3 linked regions of the Homo sapiens genome follow. The protein of the gene in region 3 interacts with the protein of the main gene of each other region in a biochemical or structural test. Each region holds a gene or a part of one and is shown on either strand. Other genes may lie near its edges.

Region 1 (7,026 bases), about 55 Mb from region 3:
GGAATGAGTTTCTTACTTGGTATCAAATTCAATGAGGTTGGTGTCCACAGGGACATCTGTCTCCGGAGCGGCTGGGGGGACGGGAAGAGGGGGTGTGGGGGTGGGTGCTGGAAGGGCCAGTTTTCCTCCACTGGCCCTGCTTCAGGCCCTCCCTCTGAGGGCTTGGGGTGGGTAGTGTGCTCACCTGACTGGGGTCTGGGGAGGGGGATGTGGTCGTGGGGCTTGGGGTGCATAAGAACAAAAGGCAGCTCCACAGAGACATCCCTGGGGAAGGGGAGAGGCATCGTGAAGAGGACGACGACATGGGACTAGAGAGAGCCAGTGTGACCCCCACCCAGGCTCCCCCATGACACTCACCCGCCTCGAGACACCACCAGCTTCACCTTGACCCTGTAGGACACCAGGATTCCCAGCACCTCCTTGTTGGCACCCTCCTTCACGCTGCAATTGAGGGTGTTGGAGTCAGACCAGGGCCTATCACCCTGTCACCTGGCCCACCGTGGGGTTCCCACGGGGACTCTGGGCAGGACCACAAACTCGCACAGGCCCCCAGGGCCCCAGCAGCCCAGGCCGTGCGGTTATGGTACAGTGCGCACTGCACTCCCTGCTCAGAGCCTCCTTGGCTCCTCTCCAGGAAAAGCTGACGTCCTTCTCCGCTAACAGCCTTGCACCGTCTGGCTCTCCATTAGCCCCTGACCTCACCTCCTCCTCCTCTCCTGGTACTTAGTTCTTCTCCCTAAGTTGCCCTCCGGGCCTGCTGTGTGTGGCTGTGCAGTGAGAACCCTGAACAAAGGCATCCGGAGAGGTGAAATCCAGCCCTTTGTGAAGCTGGGGACCTCCAGGGCTGCTCCTGCCCGAGGGCACGATGGCACCTCCCCATTCCTCCAACACCCCAGGCTGCCCCACCTCTGAGTCTTTGTTTTCTCTCTGCCCAGAACCCTCCTTTCCTGCTCACCCACATTGCTTACTTCCGCTGGGTCCTTACTCCGAATTCACCTTCGCACCTCACTGCCCCCCATCCCTTCCTTCTCTGCCTGGCTTTTTCTCCTTCATACTTGTCACTAAACCTGCTGTACAGTGACCACTGATCAGATTTGGCTATCCTCCCTCCCCTAGAATGTAAGAGTTCTTTTTGTCTCTTCTGTTCACTGATACATCCCTGGCACACTAGGATAGAGCACTGAACCGACGTCTGGCCCCTGGCCTGCAGGGGACCCGCCCCAGCCCCACCCTCACATGGTGCTGGAAGCCAGGTTGGTGTCCTCGTGCTTGAGTTTCCCATCCAGGGCGAGACCCCGCTTCTCCCGGTTGTCGCTGAGCAGTGGGGTTATGGTGTACACCTTACAGAATGTGGAGCTGGGAGATACCTGGTCACTGGGGGTGGGGACAAGAGAACAAGATGCTTAGGGGCGCTGGGCTGGGCAAGGGGCGGCCTATGACCCCCAAGCAGCATCTCCCCCTCACTAGTCCCTTGTTTCTTTGGGCACAGGTCACAAGGGAGTAGGTTTTGGCTCAACGTGCTCAAGAAAATTAACAGCCTGGAGCCTGGCTGTGGAGGGAATACCCTTTTAAGTGAAGATGGTGGCCGGTCGCGGCGGCTCACGCCTGTAATCCCAGCACTTTGAGAGGCCGCGACGGGTGGGTCACTTGAGGTCAGGGGTTCGCAACTAGCTTGGCCAACATGGTGAAACCTCGTCTCTATTAAAAATAAGCCGGGTATGGTGGTGCATGCCTGTAGTCCCAGCTACGTGGGAGGCTGAGGCAGGAGAATCGCTTGAACCCGGGAGGTGGAGGTTGCAGTGAGCAGAGGTTGCCCCATTGCACTCCAGGCTGGGCAACAAGAGCAAAAACTCCATCTCAAAAAAAAAAAAAAAGGTGGAGATGGCTCAGGAAGAATTCTTCCTCCACCTCACATTCTCCTGATCCTGCTCTTCTCCCCTAGATTGGAACATGGGTCTCTCCCGATACTCACTCTTGTTCGAGTTGAGCCACAGGACACTTGTACTGGGCGGTGCTGAAGAGGCAGATGTCGGCGTACTGTCTCACTGTGGGGTGGGACGGGGTCAGGCAGCTCTGGATGGAGCACAAGCCACCACCACACCACAACTCCAGACCCCGTGGCGTGGCCCCCCCATGCTCCCCACTGAAGCAGTAAACACCGAGGCTCCCCGTATCATTATGGAACAACCTAAATTCTTTGAGCCCTGGTGGGTCTCCCGCACTGGGAAATGGCCTGGGCTGAGATCACACCAGGAGCCACCTGTGCAGTAACGCCCTCCCCGAAGACCCCCTTCCAAACCCCACCTCCTACCAGAGACTTTGATCTTCTTGACGGTCTTGGTGGAGTTGTTGGTGACGTGGACATTTACATTGAGGGGCTCCCCATGGTAGTACAGCTTTTGGGGGGAGGGGGTCATGTGAATTGGAACTGGTTTTCACTGTTCCCATCATCAGTGTGTCCCCAAACACAGACACATTGTTCTGGCCCCCTCCCCTCAAACCCAAGCCCACGGCAACTGTCCACACCCAGCCAAGGCAACCTCCTTTACAAATGTCCTCTTGATGTGTGGCTTCGCCCCTCCCCCAGGGTCTAAACTGCACCGTGGCATCCGTGTCACCCTCTCACGCCCCACCTCCTTGTCCAGGGAAGCCTCGAGGTGCAGGGACCGGTCAGACATGAGGAAGTGGCGTGTGGTTTCGGCTGAAGGCTGGGGGCCGGGTTTCTCCGGGGCGAACTGCACCTTTCGGATCACCAGCCGCACAGAGTTCCTGGGATCAGAGTAGGGGCAGGAGGGGTCATTCCTCACACACCCCAACCCTACTCCTCCCCCGCACGGGGCCTGGGCTCCTGGAAGCGGGGAGGAAAGCCTCCTCTTACACCACAGAGGAGGTCACTTCCCTTACCTTTTGTGGCTTTTCTCTTCTAGTGATTTAGCACAGAAGGCTCGAATCTCAAAGTCTACGCCGCAGGCCTCGGGGAGGGGAGAAAAGGCCACATCTTACCGGAGGCTCCCGCCACCATCACTGCCCTTTCTTCCTCCCCCTTCCCTCCTCTCGGGCAGGGACTCTTGCCTCATTGTGGTCTCACGACCCTGGGGACTAAGTCTTCTTCCTCTCCAAAGCCCAGAACCTGGCAGAGGCTTGGTCATGGTAGTGCAAGGGGAGCCCCCATCCCCAGATCCATGCGGGTCCACAGAGCAGGAGGCAGTGTCATGCGTGCACAATGACCACCACATACGCCCCACTTCCACGGGGGACACTGGCCTACCCTCGGCCCCACCCTGGCATCTCGACAGTTCACCCTCTGGCTCAGCTGTGCCTCCAGGCTCCTGCTGGCCCATGTCCTGCCCTAGGAGCCCTCAGAGCTGTTCCTCCCGTACCTTTCCTGTATCCTCTGGGCCTGGCTGCAGTGTGACGGAGCATGGAAGATTCTGGGGTATCTGTGGCGGAGGAAGGAGAAGACTTCAGTTCTTCCAGAAAGCCCCCAGATCTTCCTCCAAATCTCAACCTAAGAGGCTGGAGACGCTGGGTGTGGTGGCTCATGCCTGTAATCCCAACACTTTGGAAGGCTAAGGTGGGCGGATCACCTGAGGTCAGGGGTTCCAGACCAGCCTGACCAACGTGGCAAAACCCCATCACTACTAAAAATACAAAATTAGTCGTGTGTGGTGGTGCGTGCCTGTAATCCCAGCTACTCGGGAGGCTGAGGCATAAGAATCACTTGAACCTGGGAGGCGGAGGTTGCAGTGAACCAAGATTGTGCCACTGCACTCCAGCCTGGGCGACAGAGCGAGACTTTGTCTCAACAACAACAAAAAAGAGGCTGGAGAAAGGACTCCTGGGGATGAGAAGGGAAGAAGGAAGGGGCCCCAGAGAGGAGGCAGATAATCAAGGGCTTCCTGAATGCACTGGGACCCTGAAGGGAAGTGGATCTAGGGTCCCTGCCTCACTGTTTCTTCCAGATCTGCCCACAGCAGTGCCTTACCCCCACCCCAGACACAGTCCCAGCCCCAGCCCCCTGGCCCTCAGAGGGCAGGGGCATCCTCACGGTGAAGAAGAAGGGGTGGGCATGCTGGCCCAGCTTCCTCAGCAGCCGGTCCTGCAGGCGGGTGGGGGGCCGGGGTGGGTTGGGCACCGGGGGGAAGGCCTGGTAGGTGGCGATGAACAGGTCTTTGCGGAAGGACAAGCCCAGCACATCCAGGTCTTCACGGCCATAGCGGAAGGCGCAGGTGAGGGTCACAAACACTGGCAAGGGAGGGTGAGATGAGTGGTCAGGAGCCCCACTTCCCCAGTCCCCTGGCACCTAGCAGCCGCTGCTCCTCCCTCAGCAGCATAAGACTTGCCTGAACCCTACTCCTGGCTTCCACCTCCAGCCTCCATCTCTCTGGGGCGCCCTTCCAAGGCCAGCCCATTTCACTTCCCTAGCCCCCACTTTCCCTGGGCCCCCTGGACTTGGGGCCAGTACCTTTGCGGTCCTTCAGGTAGTCAGGGTCCACAAGCACCACGCCATCTAGGAGGGGGACACACCAGCTCACTTCCTGAAAGGGCCGCTCCCCGCTTTCCTGGGCCCGGGAACTTCTTCCCCTCTTGGGGAACGAGCTGTCCCTTTCTGGGAAAACTTACCTACAGGGTCCACTTTGTCCAGGTGATCTACGAAGTCCCGCTTGCCCAAGTACACGGTGAGCTGAGGATGTCAAGGGGTCACAGGGGAGATTGGGGAGGATGGTGACAGGGCATCGGAGCCCTCAAAACTGGCTGCCCTGCCCGGGGATCTCCAGGCTGGGCTATCAGGAAGGAGTTGTTCCAGGTTTCCTCCCAATAGTGTTGGAAAGTGAGGGTGGTGGCGTTTCTCAGACTAGTGGACCTTTAGGCTTTTGAGCTGCTCCTTTATCTCTGCACACCTCTGCCCACCAGCCCGGTGTGTGTGTGTTTGTGTGTGTGTGTGTGTGTGTGTGTGTGTGTCCTCAGCCAACCAGTCAGGTGTGTGTGTGAACATGTATGTGCATGTGTGTCTGTGTGTGTCCTCAGGGAGGACTCAGCCCAACCAGCGAGGTGTGTTTGTGTGTGTCCGTGTGTGTGTGTGTGTGTCCGTGTGTGTGTGTTTGCATCCTCAGGGAGGACTCAGCCCAACCAGCCAGGTGTGTGTGTATGTGTGTATGTGTGTGTGTGTCTGTGTGTGTGTGTGTTTGGATCCTCGGGGAGAACTCAGCCCAACCAGCCAGCTAGAGAGCAGCTGCCACCCTCACTAGGTCCCCTCAAGGGGCTCTAGGATAAATAGGCCATAGCCCGGGGGCTGTTAGGTTTTCCCAGCCCCACGCACCTTGGGTTGGCTCCTAGGAGGGCTACAGGCACATGGCTTGCTTTTGGCCTCCTCCTCTGTGGTCTTGCTTGGGGACCCAAGCCTGCCCCACCCAGCCCTGTGGCTGGCTCAGGCTGAGCAGCCTCTGCGGCAAGGGGCTTCAGGAGGGAAGGAAGTCGGCGCTTAGCTGTCACAGGAAGTGGGGAGCTAGGGGTTGGGGATCATCTTTGGGTAGGTTGGGGATCGTCTAGGGGAAGGCTGGGCTTTGTTGGGGCCCAGGGAGGGTCAAAAGGGTAAGTGCTGTGGAGACTCACCTTGCAGTTAGGGCTCGACTTCTTGAAGACCCTAACAAAACAGAAAGGGAAACCCCACTGCCTCCCTCAGACTCAGCAGGGACCCCACACCAGGACCCTCTCCCTCCCAGGCCTGAGAAGCAGTGCTCACCCAGGCCTCCTGCCTGAGGCTGTGGGGCTTTGCCCAGCTCTGCCCCTTTCCCCTTCTTCCCGGAAGGTCCTTCCTATTTCTAACGTGGTGGCAAGGGGAACCCTTCTTCCCGGAAGGTCCTTCCTATTTCTAACGTGGTGGCAAGGGGAACCCTTCTTCCCGGAAGGTCCTTCCTATTTCTAACGTGGTGGCAAGGGGAACCCTTCTTCCCGGAAGGTCCTTCCTATTTCTAACGTGGTGGCAAGGGGAACCCTTCTTCCCGGAAGGTCCTTCCTATTTCTAACGTGGTGGCAAGGGGAACCCTTCTTCCCGGAAGGTCCTTCCTATTTCTAACGTGGTGGCAAGGGGAAATGCCCCTTGTCTTGTCCACCCTCATTCGTCCCCTTCCCTCCCCAGTAATGGCCACTGGTTGCCCTAGGAACCACCCAGGCTCTTCCCAGAGGACCCGAATGGGCAGGTAGCCACAGTGTCTGGATAAGACCTAACCATCTTTCCATCTGGTCTACAGCTCTGACAGCTGGAGCATATAGGAGAGCAATGACCCTGGCCTTTGGCCCTCAGATAGTTTCTACCACAGGCCCTACCCAAGTTCGACTCTACTCACCTCCAACTGTCCCCAACTCCGACCTCAAGAGCTTAAAAGCCTATTTGTCTTTTAAGGCCCAGCCTTTAGGAAGCTGACCCAGCCCAGACCCTGGTCGCTCCTTGTTTTGGGTTCCTGTCACACCTTGTTTATGTTTTACTTGTGGTGTGGTAGCACACAAGGATAGTTAGCTCCCTCCCTCCTCAGACTGTGAGCCTCAGAGGCCTTATTAATTTAGGCATCTCCAGCACAATGCCAGCCATATCATGAAGATGGTAATGCTGCTAACATTTCAGAGTGACTACTCCATGCCCAGCACTGTTCCAAGTGTTTCAAATGTGTCATCTCTTGTAATACTCTGTTTTTTGAGACAGAGTCTCACTCTGTTGCCCAGGCTGGAGTGCAGTGGTGCGATCTCAGCTCACTGCAACCTCCGCCTCCCAGGTTTAAGTGATTCTCCTGCTTCAGCCTCCTGAGTAGCTGGGATTACAGGAGTGAGCCACCATGCCCGGCTATGTTTTGTATTTTTTTTTTTTTTTTGGAGATGGAGTCTCACTCTATCACCAAGGCTGGAGTAGAGTGGCACGCTGTCAGCTCACTGCAACCTCCACCTCCTGGGTTCAAGCGATTCTCATGCCTCAGCTTCCTGAGTAGCTGGGATTAGAGGTGCCTGCCATCATGCCTGGCTAATTTTTTTTTT
Region 2 (7,026 bases), on a different chromosome or scaffold from region 3:
GTTTACAGTCCCACCAACAGTGTAAAAGTGTTCCTATTTCTCCACATCCTCTCCAGCACCTGTTGTCTCCTGACTTTTTAATGATTGCCATTCTAACTGGTGTGAGATGGTATCTCATTGTGGTTTTGATTTGCGTTTCTCTGATGGCCAGTGATGGTGAGCATTTTTTCATGTGTTTTTTGGCTGCATAAATGTCTTCTTTTGAGAAGTGTCTGTTCATGTCCTTTGCCCACTTTTTGATGGGGTTGTTTTTTTCTTGTAAATTTGTTTGAGTTCATTGTAGATTCTGGATATTAGCCCTTTGTCAGATGAGTAGGTTGCGAAAATTTTCTCCCATTTTGTAGGTTGCCTGTTCACTCTGATGGTAGTTTCTTTTGCTGTGCAGAAGCTCTTTAGTTGAATTAGATCCCATTTGTCAATTTTGGCTTTTGTTGCCATTGCTTTTGGTGTTTTAGACATGAAGTCCTTGCCCATGCCTATGTCCTGAATGGTAATGCCTAGGTTTTCTTCTAGGGTTTTCATGGTTTTAGGTATATTAATTTCTTTAAAACTAATCATTTTCTACCACCACATCTACTCCTCAACACATCTCTGCTTCTATGCTTATTAAATCCCATTCTTCACTGACCTCTCTCTGCTGCCCCTGTTTTTAATAAGCACAGCCATTAAAAAGAATAATGTAGATCTATATATACTGGCTTGGAAAGGAATCCACAATAAATAGAATAATACAGTCTTATACACCAAGTACCTATGTGTGTGTTTGTATATGAATAGACAAAAGGCTAGAATAGTGCTATTTAATAGAATTATAATGCACCTCACAATATAATTTTAAGTTTTCTAGTAGCTGCATTTAAAAAGAAAAAAAACAAGTGAGTATCAATAAATTTCATTTTACTCAATATATCCAAATTATTTCAACATGTGATCAATATTTTAGAAATCAAGATATCGTACATCTTCTTCCTAAGTCTTTAAAATCCAATATATAGCTTATGCATACAGCATATCTTAATTTGGACCAGTCACTTTCAGGTACCTAACAGCCATATATGGCTACTGGTTGTCATATTGGACAGTACAGATCTAAAAGGCTACACACCCAACTGTTAAGAATGGTTTCCTTTGGAGAGAGGGACTGGCTAGGTAGAGAATAAGAAATGAGGAAATTTAACTTCTAATTTTATCTTTTATTACATTTGCAATGAATATTTCTATTTTATCATAAAAACAATAAAAACTGACTCCAACTACAGACCCTCCAGCATTATTCTAGGTGCCCCACTAATAGAACTATCTTTTCCTCTGATATCAAGTCTAATTTCTCTGCCTCAATGATTCTGTTATTACTCAAAAACCCTCTCCTTTGTGACCCCAATCCCTCACTGGTAATCTTTCACTCTTCACAGCTCTACAGTATCTCACATTTAATCTCTACACTATCCAAACTCCTGTAGCCACTACTCAAAGGCTACAGGTGAGTTAACCACTTACTCATGTTTCATGATGTTCAACTGCGGGAGGGTCTGATTTGGGACCACAAAACTCATTCTCGCACAAATGTCCTTATAATCTTGATTCCTTCTCTCAAAGTCCTCCACGTGTGCAGCCAGATGGGAATTGACAATGCAAAAGGTGGTGTTGTGAAATACAAATCTCACAGCTACCCCACCTTTGTTTCCCTGTTAGCAAGAGTAATTATTCAATTAGTACACAGAACAAGCAACTGAACTTTACATGAACATGAATAATAATCAAGCTCATTTCCAAAGTAACTCACCATTTTCCCCATGATTCCAGTTCCAACTGTTTCTGTAGCAATATCACGAATGTATCGACACTGATCCTTTCTGGCAAATATAAGAAGCATCATCCCAACAAGGCGCACCAGTTGAACCTATGAGTTCCGGGGAGTTACAAAAGGTTAATGTTAATACCAATCTTTGCCACATTTCTAATGTCCCACGACTAATTTTCCATCAAGATGATATACTAGTGCCCAAATCTGACTTCATATCCTCTAATTTCTCAGTGGACCCCGTCAAGTGGAAACTAATATTCTCTGGGGAGGCTCTAATCTGGCACTGACCAATAAGAGTTAAAAGCTGGGAGGGACAATGAGTACTTTCAGCTCTAGATCTATTCTTTTAATCACTTCTTAGCCTACCAGGAGTAAGCAGCATTAAAAGTTCAAATAATAAAGCCACTATCCCAGCTTGTTCCTTCCACCTTTCCTTCCTAGTTTCTGATGTCTAATTTTCTAAGAAATTGAAATCAACCAAACAGCAATCTTTTTTACTTATTTTTAACTTGTGAACTACAGCTAGAAATATGTCTGAGATATACATTAGTCAGGGACCTATATGAGAGGAATAACATCCCCAGGAGTTTTATTACCTATATAAACTGTTAGAAGATGTAGAGAAAAATTACTCACATTACTTCTTTTAGAGACCTTAGTATGATAGCCCTGTAATTAACTCTTCTGGTAGCTAAATGCCTTTACCACATACCTTCTAAAGACAAACAAATTGGCCCATCTTGCTAAAGTCAACTCTCCTCTTAACTTAAAACCAAGTTTAGAACTCGTTCAAATTCCACACCACTTCTATTCTTGCTCTGATTGCAACACATGCACCATGCGCCCACGTTTCATATTGCTTTTCTGTAAAGCATTCAATTCTGACCATGTCAGTGAGTAATCTAAATCTTATATGTAATTATTTCAAACTAAGTATTGATATAAGCATAATAAAATTCTTTTTTCCCCTAAAAGCTATCTAAGCAATGAAAATATAGTATCAGAAAGCTTAGGGATTTTTTTTTCTAGGAAATAAGGATGAATGATCAATCTGCCCTATCCCAGTATTACACACAGAGAAGAATTCAATTAAACTATTCTTTTGGAACAAGTTGTAGATAATGGAATAACTCCCGGTGAGCCCTATTTAGTCATACACTTAAAAAGATAATTAAATGCGGCTTACTTTCTTATACTTGGCTTTGGAATGCAAACCTCTCTCTACAGCCATGGACCATTCTTGTTCCTTCACAGATTCAAAGTAGAAGAAGGCTTCTGTGCTCAAGTCCAGTTCTTGGAATCTGAGGAAAAAAGGGATATGAGATCTATACATATCCCATAATTATCTCTGGCTACCTCCTGTCCCATATGTTGAAACATTAGATGAAAAAAAGATGGGAGAGAGATAAATTTTATAGAACTGCTCTGTTCACCCAGGTTATCAGTAAGAACAAGTAGCTTTCTTTTCTAAAGAATTCCCACAAGTACATTCATAAGCTATGCAAAAAATAAATCAAAATACCTCCCACAGAGGATAACAGCAGAGCTTTGCTCTTATATCCTAGGAACTGTCACTGTTAGAACTGACCCCAAGTCTTAGTTTCTATGCAGAATATATAGATTCCTACGGGTTTCAAGAAAATTAGATGCTTCCTTACACCATTTTAGGTATCTGTTCATTTCTGTTCTCACAAATTTGACCCGCAAGTTAACTCTCGTGTATAGTCTACAGTAGGTTTTACCAACAGTCTTTTTTAAAAAAGGCAAAACATCATGTAAATGAACACCAAACATATAGCCAAAAGGAAATTCCAGAAGTGTTCTTTACCCAATGCAGTAGATATCAGGAGGATTGGGATCACAGTTCAGCCAAGGTTCTAACCCGCTATCTGGAGACTGGCCATTCACATTCCAAGTTCCAACAAAAAATCTAATACATAATACGAAAAGATAATTTGAAAACAAAGATCAAGTATAAACCAACAGAAGTTCTTTCTTTTCGCTTCCATACAAAGGTATGTTCACAATATGCTAACATAATTCCTCAAAATGTTTTGCCACATATGTAAGAAAGATCTTTTGCATCTAGAACACAAAGGCAGTGGGCTTATTTTCTCTAAATTTTACATTAAGTAAAACTACAGAAGGAAACCAAGTCTTTATTTTTAAAAAATGCAAAGGTAATTGCTATACCACATTTCCTTTCAATTAAGCTCCATCCAAACTCATACTTGATAGGAGAGCTTATGGATGGGAAAGAGGTATCTTCATGCTGTAAGCTAGTCAAATATGGATAAATGTTCTATAAGGGGCTATAGTTGACTCCAGGAACTCACTTCCTGAAGGATTACAAGGACATCTGTGTAGGAAATTCTGATGAGGCAGACATAGTATTAAGGGGGAAAGCAGAAGGGAAAACTCATGACTGTCTTAACTGTTTACACACAAATATAAGCATAGTGGGGGATATGAGGAACTGCAAGTTTTAGCATAGGGATATAGTTATGACTGAATTAGAATAAATGAGGTATGACAGGATAGCAGATGGGACTAGAATCTTGGACTAGAAGGGTACATTCTGCTCATGAATAACAAAGAAATGTGGTGTTGCTTCATGCATTGGCGATACATGCCACATGGTACCTCACATGCAGCATACACACACAAGTCCAGAAAAAAGATGAAATAAAAAATAATACAGATAAAAGAACCCAAGATAGACCTCCCAATCAAGAGGACTGGGTGAAACTTTCTTTATTTACCAAAGTAAGTAAGTTAAGAGCTAGTGGTAATGATGGACTTTAATTTTCTAATATTGGCTGAAAAAAAAAAACTTAACAGGCCAGATATATAAACACGCTTGCTTATGGAATGTGCTAGGGGAAAATTCTCTAGTACATGTGACCTTGATTTGGTTCTCTAGGACTCAGTAGAGACATTAGTAGACATGGCATTATTAGTAGTTAGAAAATCCAAGGGAAGGCCAAGCACGGTGGCTCAAGCCTGTAATCCTAACACTTTGTGAGGCCAAGGCGGGTGGATTGCCTGAGCTCAGGAATTTGAGACCAGCCTGGGCAACCTGGTGAAACCCAGTCTCTATAAAAAACACAAATATTAGCTGGATGTGGTGGTGTGCACCTGTAGTTCCACCTACTTGCAGGGCTGGCGTGGGAGGATTGCTTACGACTGAGAGGTTGAGGCTACAGTAAGCCATGATCTATCTGCTCTCCAGCCTGGGTGACAAAGAGAGACCCTGACCCACACACACAAAAAAAGAAAATCCAAGGGAAACTGTAGCATCTGCATTATTTCTGATATGCATGTTATTGGCCAGCATAGAGACAGGAGCTTGAAACAGGCAACCATTCCTTTTTATCATATTTTGATTCTTAATTAGGCTAATGTCTTAAATATCAACAGGCCACTGTCTGTTATATATACTAACTTTTTAGACTCAGGAAGCAAAAGAGACACTAACCTGAAAGTCTGAATGTTGACATATTCTTTCTCTCGCTTTGCCAGGATATGTTTGATGAGACCCTCCCGCTGCCCAGATTGGGTATTTGGTACAAAGAGCTTCCGCATGGTGTTGGTCACTTTGGGCTGCTCCTTGTTAGAAGCTTCTTTTTCACGTGGAAGCCTAGCAAATAAATGAGAGATTCAAAAGTAAAATTGTTTAAACTATAATTCTCCTACAAGGCAAATATGTTTTCACATGGGACTTACATTTTATTCACTGAAAAGGGTGGAGGTGGGGGTTCCCGATGAATCCCAGTAGGCTGATTTTGTGAATTTATTTTCTTGTCCAAATTCATAGAAGAAAAATTGTCTTCAAATCCAAGAAGCCCTGAAAGACACAGACCCCAAAGTCAAACGGGGAAAAAATCTAACATCCAACATATCCAGGGTAACAGGGCTTTGATTTGATCACAATTTGATCAGTGGTATTACTAAACAGAAAACTATCATAAGGGTAGAAATTACTTGGATTGGAGTTCGAAGAAGCATACCTATCCCTGAAGCACTGATATACTAACTAGAACAATAGAAGTTTATAAGAACTTGGAACAGACTAGTAATAGCTAACATTTATTGAAGACTGAGCACAATGCCTGGTTGAGAGTAAGGGACTATATCATGATCTCACTTAATCATCACAAAAACTCCAAGAAGTAAGTACTATTAAAAATCTTCCCATATTACAGAAAGGAAAAGGGAAGTTCAGAGTTGTTGAGTAACTTGATGAAGGTTGTACAACTAGTAAGTTCTTGACTTGGGATTCAAATCCAGGCTGTCTGGCTCTCGAGCTTGTACTTTCTACCACCCTGCTAAGCTGGCTCCTGAACAGCTACCATGCTACAGGAAGGATAAGGAGTGAACACTGGTCAGTGGGCCTGGACTTGATAAAACTACTCTGCAGGAGAATGTGTCTGACATCAGCTTTAATCTACATCACCATATTTGGCCTGACAAAATCTACTGACTCTGCAATGACCATAGCAACAAGGAAACCAGGAACTTTTTAGTACCTGAAAAAACAGAAGGTTTGTCCTTAGTGTCTAATTTCTGGTACCAGCTAGATGAGTCCTTTTGCTCTGGAACAAGAAGCTGTGACTGAGCTAGAGAGATAAGGTTCATGGTCAGAAACTGGGAAGTCTTTCACTGAGTAGAATTTACTATAGCCAAAAGCCATTCTTTCAACATTCCTTATATGCAGGGGCCAGCACCATTTTTGGATACAGTGGAAGAAACTAAGGAAATGAGGGCAGCTCTGGGGTCATCTAGGGGCAGAAGGAGAATTATAGTCTATGGTAAGCTGTGCTTGCCATGACACTGAATATTCTGAAAACTTGCCTAGTGTCCTTAAAGCTGGGCAGATTTTTTCCCTAACCTATCCCTGTGTTCACTCCTGAAGAAAAAAAAATCAGCTATCAGGGCTTAAAGGGTGAGGTATTTTGCCAATGGCCACTTTCCTCTGTATCAGCATGTCAGAATTCCACTCCCGTTGAAATAGAAGAAAGAAAATCGCTGAGTCTTTAGTTACCTTTCTGAGCAGCAAGGACAGCTGAGAGGAACTTCAAACAGTGTTCCTCATCAGGGATTTCAAAGCGGCGCTCTCTGATCCAGTCCCCCTGAACCCGAATTTTGCAGCCACCTAAAAAGAATTGAAATCCATACATATACTGCTATGGGATAAAATGTTTTACTGGGATCATATTCTC
Region 3 (7,026 bases):
GCAATCATAATGGTGCAGTTTTGTAACATCAAATCTATTTGCGTTATCAGGAGAGTTGTTTTTCTCTTATCTTTCTATGTAAATTATGATCTCTAGGCTGGGTGTGGTGGCTCATGCCTGTAATCCCAGCACTTTGGGAGGCCAAAGCAGGCGGATCACAAGGTCAGGAGTTCAACACCAACCTGGACAACATGGTGAAATCCCATCTGTACTAAAATTACAAAAATCAGCCAGGCATGGTGGCGGGCACCTGTAATCCCAGCTACTTGGGAGGCTTAGGCAGAAGAACCGCTTGAACCCGGGAGGCAGAAGTTGCAGTGAGCCAAGATCATGCCACTGTACTCCAGCCTGGGCGACAGAGCAAGACTCCATCTCAAAAAAAAAAAAAAAAAAAATTATGATCTCTAGAAACATGCCCGAATGGACTGCTTTTCACGGGATATTTAAATCATCTGCTTATAACATCCAACAGTTCCAACTGTGAGGCCATACACAGGAGAATTTTAGATGTGTAAAATTTGTCTCTCACTAATCCAGTTGATTTCAAGCCTACAGCAGCCTTTGCCAAACAGCATTCTGGTGCTCAGAACAGAAGCAACTGTGAGAGGACACAATACTATGGAGATTCAGTAAGGCTTTTAATAAGGAGACTCTTTCCTGAGGATATCTGTGGTAAAATAAAGAAACCTGCCTTAGATTTTCATAGTTCAATATGACCAAATATAGAATATTGCAGAGACTGGAGAAAGAGATGGGTTTTTGTAAACCATGTTCTCTCTACACGTTTTTCCCCCTTATTATTCATCTTTAAATAATGAGATCTATCCAAAGTCAGCTGTTTGCCAAGCAGAGCATATATACTGACAGTCTTTAGCTTCAGTCTGTCCACTTTGGTGGTTTTTTTTAAGCCACCTTTCTCAGATGAGCAGCTAATCAGAAATAAATGCAAGTTGGCCAGGCACGATGGCTCACGCCTGTAATCCCAGCACTTTGGGAAGCTGAGGAGGGTAGATTATTTGAGGTCAGGAGTTTGAGACCAGCCTGGCCAACATGGTGAAACCCCATCTCTACTAAAAATACAAAAAAAATTCGCCAGGCCTGGTGGCGGGCCCCTGTAGTCCCAGCTACTCAGGAGGCTGAGGCAGGAGAATTGCTTGAACCTGGGAGGCGGAAGTTGCAGTGAACCAAGATTGCACCACCGTACTCCAGCCTGGGCAACAGAGTCAACTCCCAATCCAATTCTCGTTTTTTCGTCTTCTATGACTCCCAGTTTCAACCTAGGGTCATGAAAAACTGTCATCCCTGAGACCCCCAGTGTGCATCACTGAGGAACTCCAGAAATCGACGGATGCAGAAAATGAGAAATTAGAGAGTCTGGTGTAACTTCAAGATCTTGGCTTCAATAACTGGGTAGATGGTAGTTTTTCTCCTTTAGTACGGCACATATATTCAACTCAAGTGGACAAAGGGAAACTCTTCCAGGGTGGAGGGGAAGAACTAATATTCGAGTGCCTGTAAGGGGTTAAGGGGCTAAATATTATACTACAAATACAAAAACATACTGTAGTCTAACTTTAAAATTGCCAGGAAATATTGTTTTAATAAATGAGGAAGTTGAGACAAGTTGAAAACCTGACATAATCAATAGATAAGCCCAGATTAAACATCTGAGACATTTTCCAGAATAGCACACTGCAGAGTTTTTTAATGTGACAAAATATGGCTTTAATGGATCTGGTTCCTATTCTTTCAGCAATAATCTTTAAAACCGTCTTACTTCAGAACTTGAAGAAAATCCTTATTTACCTAAGGATTAGGAACAAGAAGTATTAACAGTACTGGCAGTCTGCCTCCAAAGCACAACCCTACAAGTCTGTAACCATTTTCCTTTCTACCATGATGCTACTCAAAATGAGCAAATATATTCCATTGTCACCTTCATTTCCTATCCCTTTCATGCACAACTGCCTTCGTTGAGTTCAAGCTTCTATTTCTTGGCATAAACACAAAAACATGAATTTACAGTAAAATAGAAAGCAGAAGTTTCCTCCTTTCACAAGTGGCTTCAGACTGGAACACACTCATTCTTTTCAGTAAGAAAAAGTCTATAGAAAAGTGTGACAAGTTCAGTCTTATGAGAGGGATGCAGACAATCCTGGTTACAAGTTAACCGGATCCCAATCATCCTGCACAATTTTCCAATAGGAAACAGGATAAAGTCCTTAAAAAAGATACAGCTAAATAATCATTCAAGGCATAAAGTCAGATGTTAGTTTGCTGTCTCCTACTTTTCTCATAATATAAAAAATATTTCACGATAAACAAACGACAGTACTACTAGAATCAAAGAACATCACAGCATAGATATAAACAATTGTGGTACATTTTGCAATTCAAATGATACAGACCATTTACCAAATGAGGCAATGAGCCAAATGAAAGAATAAATATTAAAAGTCTGACTGCTCACTAGCTGTGTGACTCTAAAAGTTACCTACTATGAACTTCAGTTGCCCAATCTCTACAATAAGGCTAATCTGACCTAAGCACAAGGGTTCTCTTGCTAATTAAATGAGATAATAAACATTAAATATTTAATACAGTTCTTGGCACGTAATAGGTGCTCAAACAACTATAATGGCCCATGTATTTTGATTTTATGGATTAGATTACAGGACAATTAAGATTTGAATAGTTACTGCCTCAAAAATAGGACAAGGCTTGGTGTCTCACACTTGTAATTTCAGCACTTTGGGAGGCTGTGGCAGGTGGACTGCTTGAGCCCGGGATTTTGAGACCATCCTGGGAAACATGGCAAAACCCCGACTCTACAAAAAAAATACAAAAATTAGCCGGGTTTGGTGGCGCACGCCTGTAGTCCCAGCTATTTAGGGAGCAGAGGTGGGAGGATTACCTAAGCCCAGGGAGGTCAAGGCTGCAGTGAGCCTTGATCATGCCACTGCACTCCAGCCTGGGCAACAGAGTGAGACCCTGTCCCCACCCCCCAAAAAAAGTAGGACAAAAATATCTTAAATTATGTCTTAATTTAAGGAGATAATACAAAAGAAGAGACTCACAAAAGTCTGACAGATGGGTTTTGCATAACACATTTAGGTCCAAGCTTTCAGCCATCTTTTGAGTTAAGAGCATTAGCCATAGGCACTTAACCAAGAAGCAAAGACAAGACACCCAGAGCTGTAAACTTTGCTGTGGCTCAGAAGACAGGTTTATTTCATGAAGTAGTTTTGGCATGGCATATAGTGCATGAACTTAGAGAAACAGCCTCATTCTAATATACAGGACTAAAATATCAGCCATGAACCTACTGCTCATCTAAGTGAGAAGATTCACTTCAACACTACCACCCTAAAAAAGGACACATACAACACATACAATAACTCTAACAATCGCCTGACCGGCATTCCATATGGGTATTTTATCCGATATGATTCATTAAGTTTTTTTTTCAAATATGTCTGTTCAAGGAACCCTAATTTAAAATGTACCAGTGGCACACAATGAGACTCGTGGAACATAATAAAAGATTTATTTAAAAGTTTCTTTTTGGGGGGCAGTTTCAGAGTGTAATCAACTTTGTATCATATCAATATTTGTATTAAACTGTGCACAATATCAAATGTTCGAACACATAAAAGATCCACAATCAAGTAGACAACATCAATGGTTGGAATAACAAGTGTACAGCCTTTGCCAACTCATCAATGGAAGCATGAATGCAAGGTGTAGTCCATCTTGTTTACCACCTTGTCCCTAGAGTCTAACACAGTTCCTCATCTGCAGTAAGTACTCAAATCTTAGGTAAATGTGTTAACCCCAAATACTTATACACCATAAAACACTGGATCTGTAAATGAATATTGTGTCATTGGTTGAGATACCTGAATAAAATGTACTGGACAAAAATTATTTAGCCAATAATTAATGCTCCTAAAATGCTACGTAAAGTACTTTCACATACATGATCTCAGATCCTCATAATAACTTTGTGAGATAAGTATGCCCATTTCCCAGAGAAAAAAAAGCAAGAGGTTAGACTTAACCTGTGTTGTCCAATATGGTAACCACAAGTCACAACCTACATACCATAATGAGCACTTGAAATGTGGTTACCGTAATTTTAAAGTAATTAAAATTAAATAATAACCAGTAAGTGATTCAATTACTGGAAAACTTAAGTATGTTTGGGATCACTGAAGTATTGCATATCTGCTTTCCTTTTTCTTCATTTTTGTTTGTTTAATATAGAGACGAGGTCTTAACTCTGTTACCCAGGCTGGTCTTGAATTCCTGGGCTCAAACAATGCTCCTACCTTGGCTCACAAAGTGCTGAGTTTACAGGCATGAGCCACTACCCCCAGCCCCAAATCTGCCTTTCTAACTGTAAATTTTATGAACTCTAAATACGGACCAGGATTTCCAAAGAAAATAGGGTCTGAATTGATATATGCTCTAAGTACAAAATATACATAGCCGGGCACGGTGGCTCACACCTGTAATCCTAACACTTCGGGAGGCCGAGGCAGGCATTTCACGAGGTCAAGAGATTGAGACCATCCTGACCAACATGGTGAAACCCCATCTTTACTAAAAATACCAAAAAATAAAAATAAAAAAAAAATAGCTGGGCGTGGTAGCACGCGCCTGTAGTCCCAGCGACTCGGGAGGCAGAGGCAGAAGAATCACTTGAACCTGGAAGGCGGAGGTTGCAATGAGCCGAGATCCACCATTGCACTCCAGCCTGGCGACAGAGTGAGACTTTGTCTCAAAAAAAAAGAAAAAAAAACCACACACACTAGATTTAGAAAATTTAGTATGAAAAAGAATGTAAGGTATCTCATTAGTAAATTTTATACTGATTACATATTGAAATAATATTTTGCATATCCCAAGTTAAATAAAATATATTAAATTTAATTTTATCTGGGCATGGCATGGTGACTCACGCCTGTAATCCCAGCACTTTGGGAGGCCAAGGCGAGCAGATCACTTGAGCCCAATAATTTGAGACCAGCCTGAGCAATATAGCAAGACTCTGTCTCTACCAAAAAAACCCAAAATTAATTAATTTTATGTTTTTTCACTTTTAATATGGCTGCTAGAAAACTTAAAAAATTATTTATATGAGGCCAGGAGCAGCAGCTCATGCCTATAATCCCAGCACTTTGGGAGGTCGAGGTGGGCAGATCATTTGAAGTCAGGAGTTGAAGACCAGCCTGGCCAACATGGTAAAACCCCATCTCTACTAAAAATGGAAAAATTAGCCAGGCATGGTGGCAGACACCTAAAATCCCAGCTACTTGGGAGGCTGAGGCAGGAGAATCACTTGAACCTGGCAGGTGGAGGTTGCTGTGAGCCGAGATCGCACCACTGCACACTAGTCTAGGTGACAGAGGACAGAGTGAGACTCTGTCTCAAAAAAAAAAAAAAAAAAAAAAAAAGTATGTGGCTCATATTATTTTTCTATTGGACAGCATTTGTTTCAACAACCCCTAAAGCCCTCCCTGTTCTGTCTACTATACCACATTGTTAATCTATAAACAAGTAGAGAGAACTCACCTCTCTGGGCCTAAGTCCAACAGACAAAAAGCACTCTAGGATACTGTATAACTTCTTTTTTTAAGGTCAATTATCCAATTTCTTTGAAATATTTTGTGTCAGAAGACTCAGGTACACATCCCATTCGGACAGCATTCCCACTACTTTATGAGTCTCACTTTTTAGAAAGGTGTCTGGGGGGATTGAGTGAAGATCTGAAAGTACCTAGCCAAATTTACAGCACATAATAAGGTCTCAAGAAGTCTGCTGCTAGTCATTGTTCATCACCACCACTTTCCAAGACAGACAGTATTCAGTTAAAACTTTTGAACAATGAGTGTTTTAATTTTAGCTAACGAAATATTCTAAATACATAAACATGAGTGGTGAGATAAATCTTCAAACTTACAAAACACATCAGCATGGCCTATAATTGTGCAGTCCAATGTAGGAGTCAATTGTCACATGTGGCTATTTACATTTAAATTAAAAAGAAATTAAAGCAAAAATTTAGTTTTTCAGTCACATCAGCCACATTTCAAGTGCTCAATATCCCTATGTAGCTGGTAGACAGTTCCATCATTGAAGAAAGTTCTACTGGACAATAACTCAAAGAGAAAAAGCCACAACGGTAACAATGACAGGGAAAACACCTTGTTAAATATAATTTGAATAACATATAAACATATGTATGGAAAAAACAATTTTGCAAAGAAGCTGAGGATTCGATATAAATGGAATCTTTTAAAAGCAAGGTACAAATTCCAATTATGGTCAGAAACAATTGTTCAAGAGCAACTACCATGGTTCCTGAAATGTGAATTTTCCTAAATACTCAAATGAAAATGATTGTGTTCTACATACACACCATTCTGTGTCTTATTTCCTAATCAGAGTGAAAGCACTTTCACTAAAATTAACCACACACTTTAAGCTGGGTAAACTGACCATCAAGAAAATTCTGAAGAATATGATACATTTTAAACTTAGAAGCTATTCCCAGGAGACTGCCGCATAATTCCAGGAAGTCTACCTCTTCCAGAGAGTACAACTAAGCATGTAGTAAATCCCAGTACTTAGCATTGCTTTCTATTCACAATCCGAACTAACTATAGCAAGAACCCCTAACATTTGACTCAACAACACATTCCATGCCTGCATCTATGGATCAAAGGGGAAAGAACAGGGTAGGGAGATTTTTAATTGAAGACCCAAAGAATCTAGGAATACAATGGAATGTGTCAAGTGGCCTAAAGATACTTAATGTGCCAGAAAATTGAAAATCACCAAAAAATTAAGAATCACAGGCAATATTTTATATATGTAGCCTAGGATTTTTATAGAATCTTCAATTCCAACAGTATCTTGCTCAAATAGGCACTCATTTATTAACTGCTATCAGTCTAAACAGTCTAGGAAAAGAGAAATCTTCATATATTCACATTCATTTGCTGTAGGTCCAAGCTTTGA

The links. Proteins that work in one complex are often made in the same cells at the same time.
Region 1: the proteins of CLTC (region 3) and ARRB2 form a complex in vitro, tested with the Homo sapiens proteins (3 studies listed by BioGRID and IntAct, with this or other methods).
Region 2: the proteins of CLTC (region 3) and OCRL form a complex in vitro, tested with the Homo sapiens proteins (2 studies listed by BioGRID and IntAct, with this or other methods).

What each region holds. Positions count from the first base shown.
Region 1 is NC_000017.11:4,713,631-4,720,656, reverse strand, and holds part of ARRB2 (beta-arrestin-2), read right to left. Parts: intron 5,671-7,026; exon of another isoform or gene 5,645-5,670; coding exon 5,614-5,644; intron 5,472-5,613; exon of another isoform or gene 5,321-5,471; intron 4,685-5,320; coding exon 4,624-4,684; intron 4,511-4,623; coding exon 4,466-4,510; intron 4,246-4,465; coding exon 4,049-4,245; coding exon of another isoform or gene 3,986-4,048; intron 3,441-3,985; coding exon 3,381-3,440; intron 2,973-3,380; coding exon 2,905-2,972; intron 2,770-2,904; coding exon 2,634-2,769; intron 2,397-2,633; coding exon 2,312-2,396; intron 2,046-2,311; coding exon 1,973-2,045; intron 1,375-1,972; coding exon 1,237-1,374; intron 442-1,236; coding exon 358-441; intron 265-357; coding exon 185-264; intron 108-184; coding exon of another isoform or gene 72-107; coding exon 17-71; intron 1-16. UniProt on the Homo sapiens protein: Functions in regulating agonist-mediated G-protein coupled receptor (GPCR) signaling by mediating both receptor desensitization and resensitization processes.
Region 2 is NC_000023.11:129,557,258-129,564,283, reverse strand, and holds part of OCRL (inositol polyphosphate 5-phosphatase OCRL), read right to left. Parts: intron 6,960-7,026; coding exon 6,849-6,959; intron 6,424-6,848; coding exon 6,334-6,423; intron 5,652-6,333; coding exon 5,531-5,651; intron 5,445-5,530; coding exon 5,283-5,444; intron 3,735-5,282; coding exon 3,633-3,734; intron 3,106-3,632; coding exon 2,991-3,105; intron 1,901-2,990; coding exon 1,784-1,900; intron 1,686-1,783; coding exon 1,498-1,685; intron 1-1,497. UniProt on the Homo sapiens protein: Catalyzes the hydrolysis of the 5-position phosphate of phosphatidylinositol 4,5-bisphosphate (PtdIns(4,5)P2) and phosphatidylinositol-3,4,5-bisphosphate (PtdIns(3,4,5)P3), with the greatest catalytic activity towards PtdIns(4,5)P2.
Region 3 is NC_000017.11:59,622,888-59,629,913, reverse strand, and holds part of CLTC (clathrin heavy chain 1), read right to left. Parts: intron 1-7,026. UniProt on the Homo sapiens protein: Clathrin is the major protein of the polyhedral coat of coated pits and vesicles. Two different adapter protein complexes link the clathrin lattice either to the plasma membrane or to the trans-Golgi network.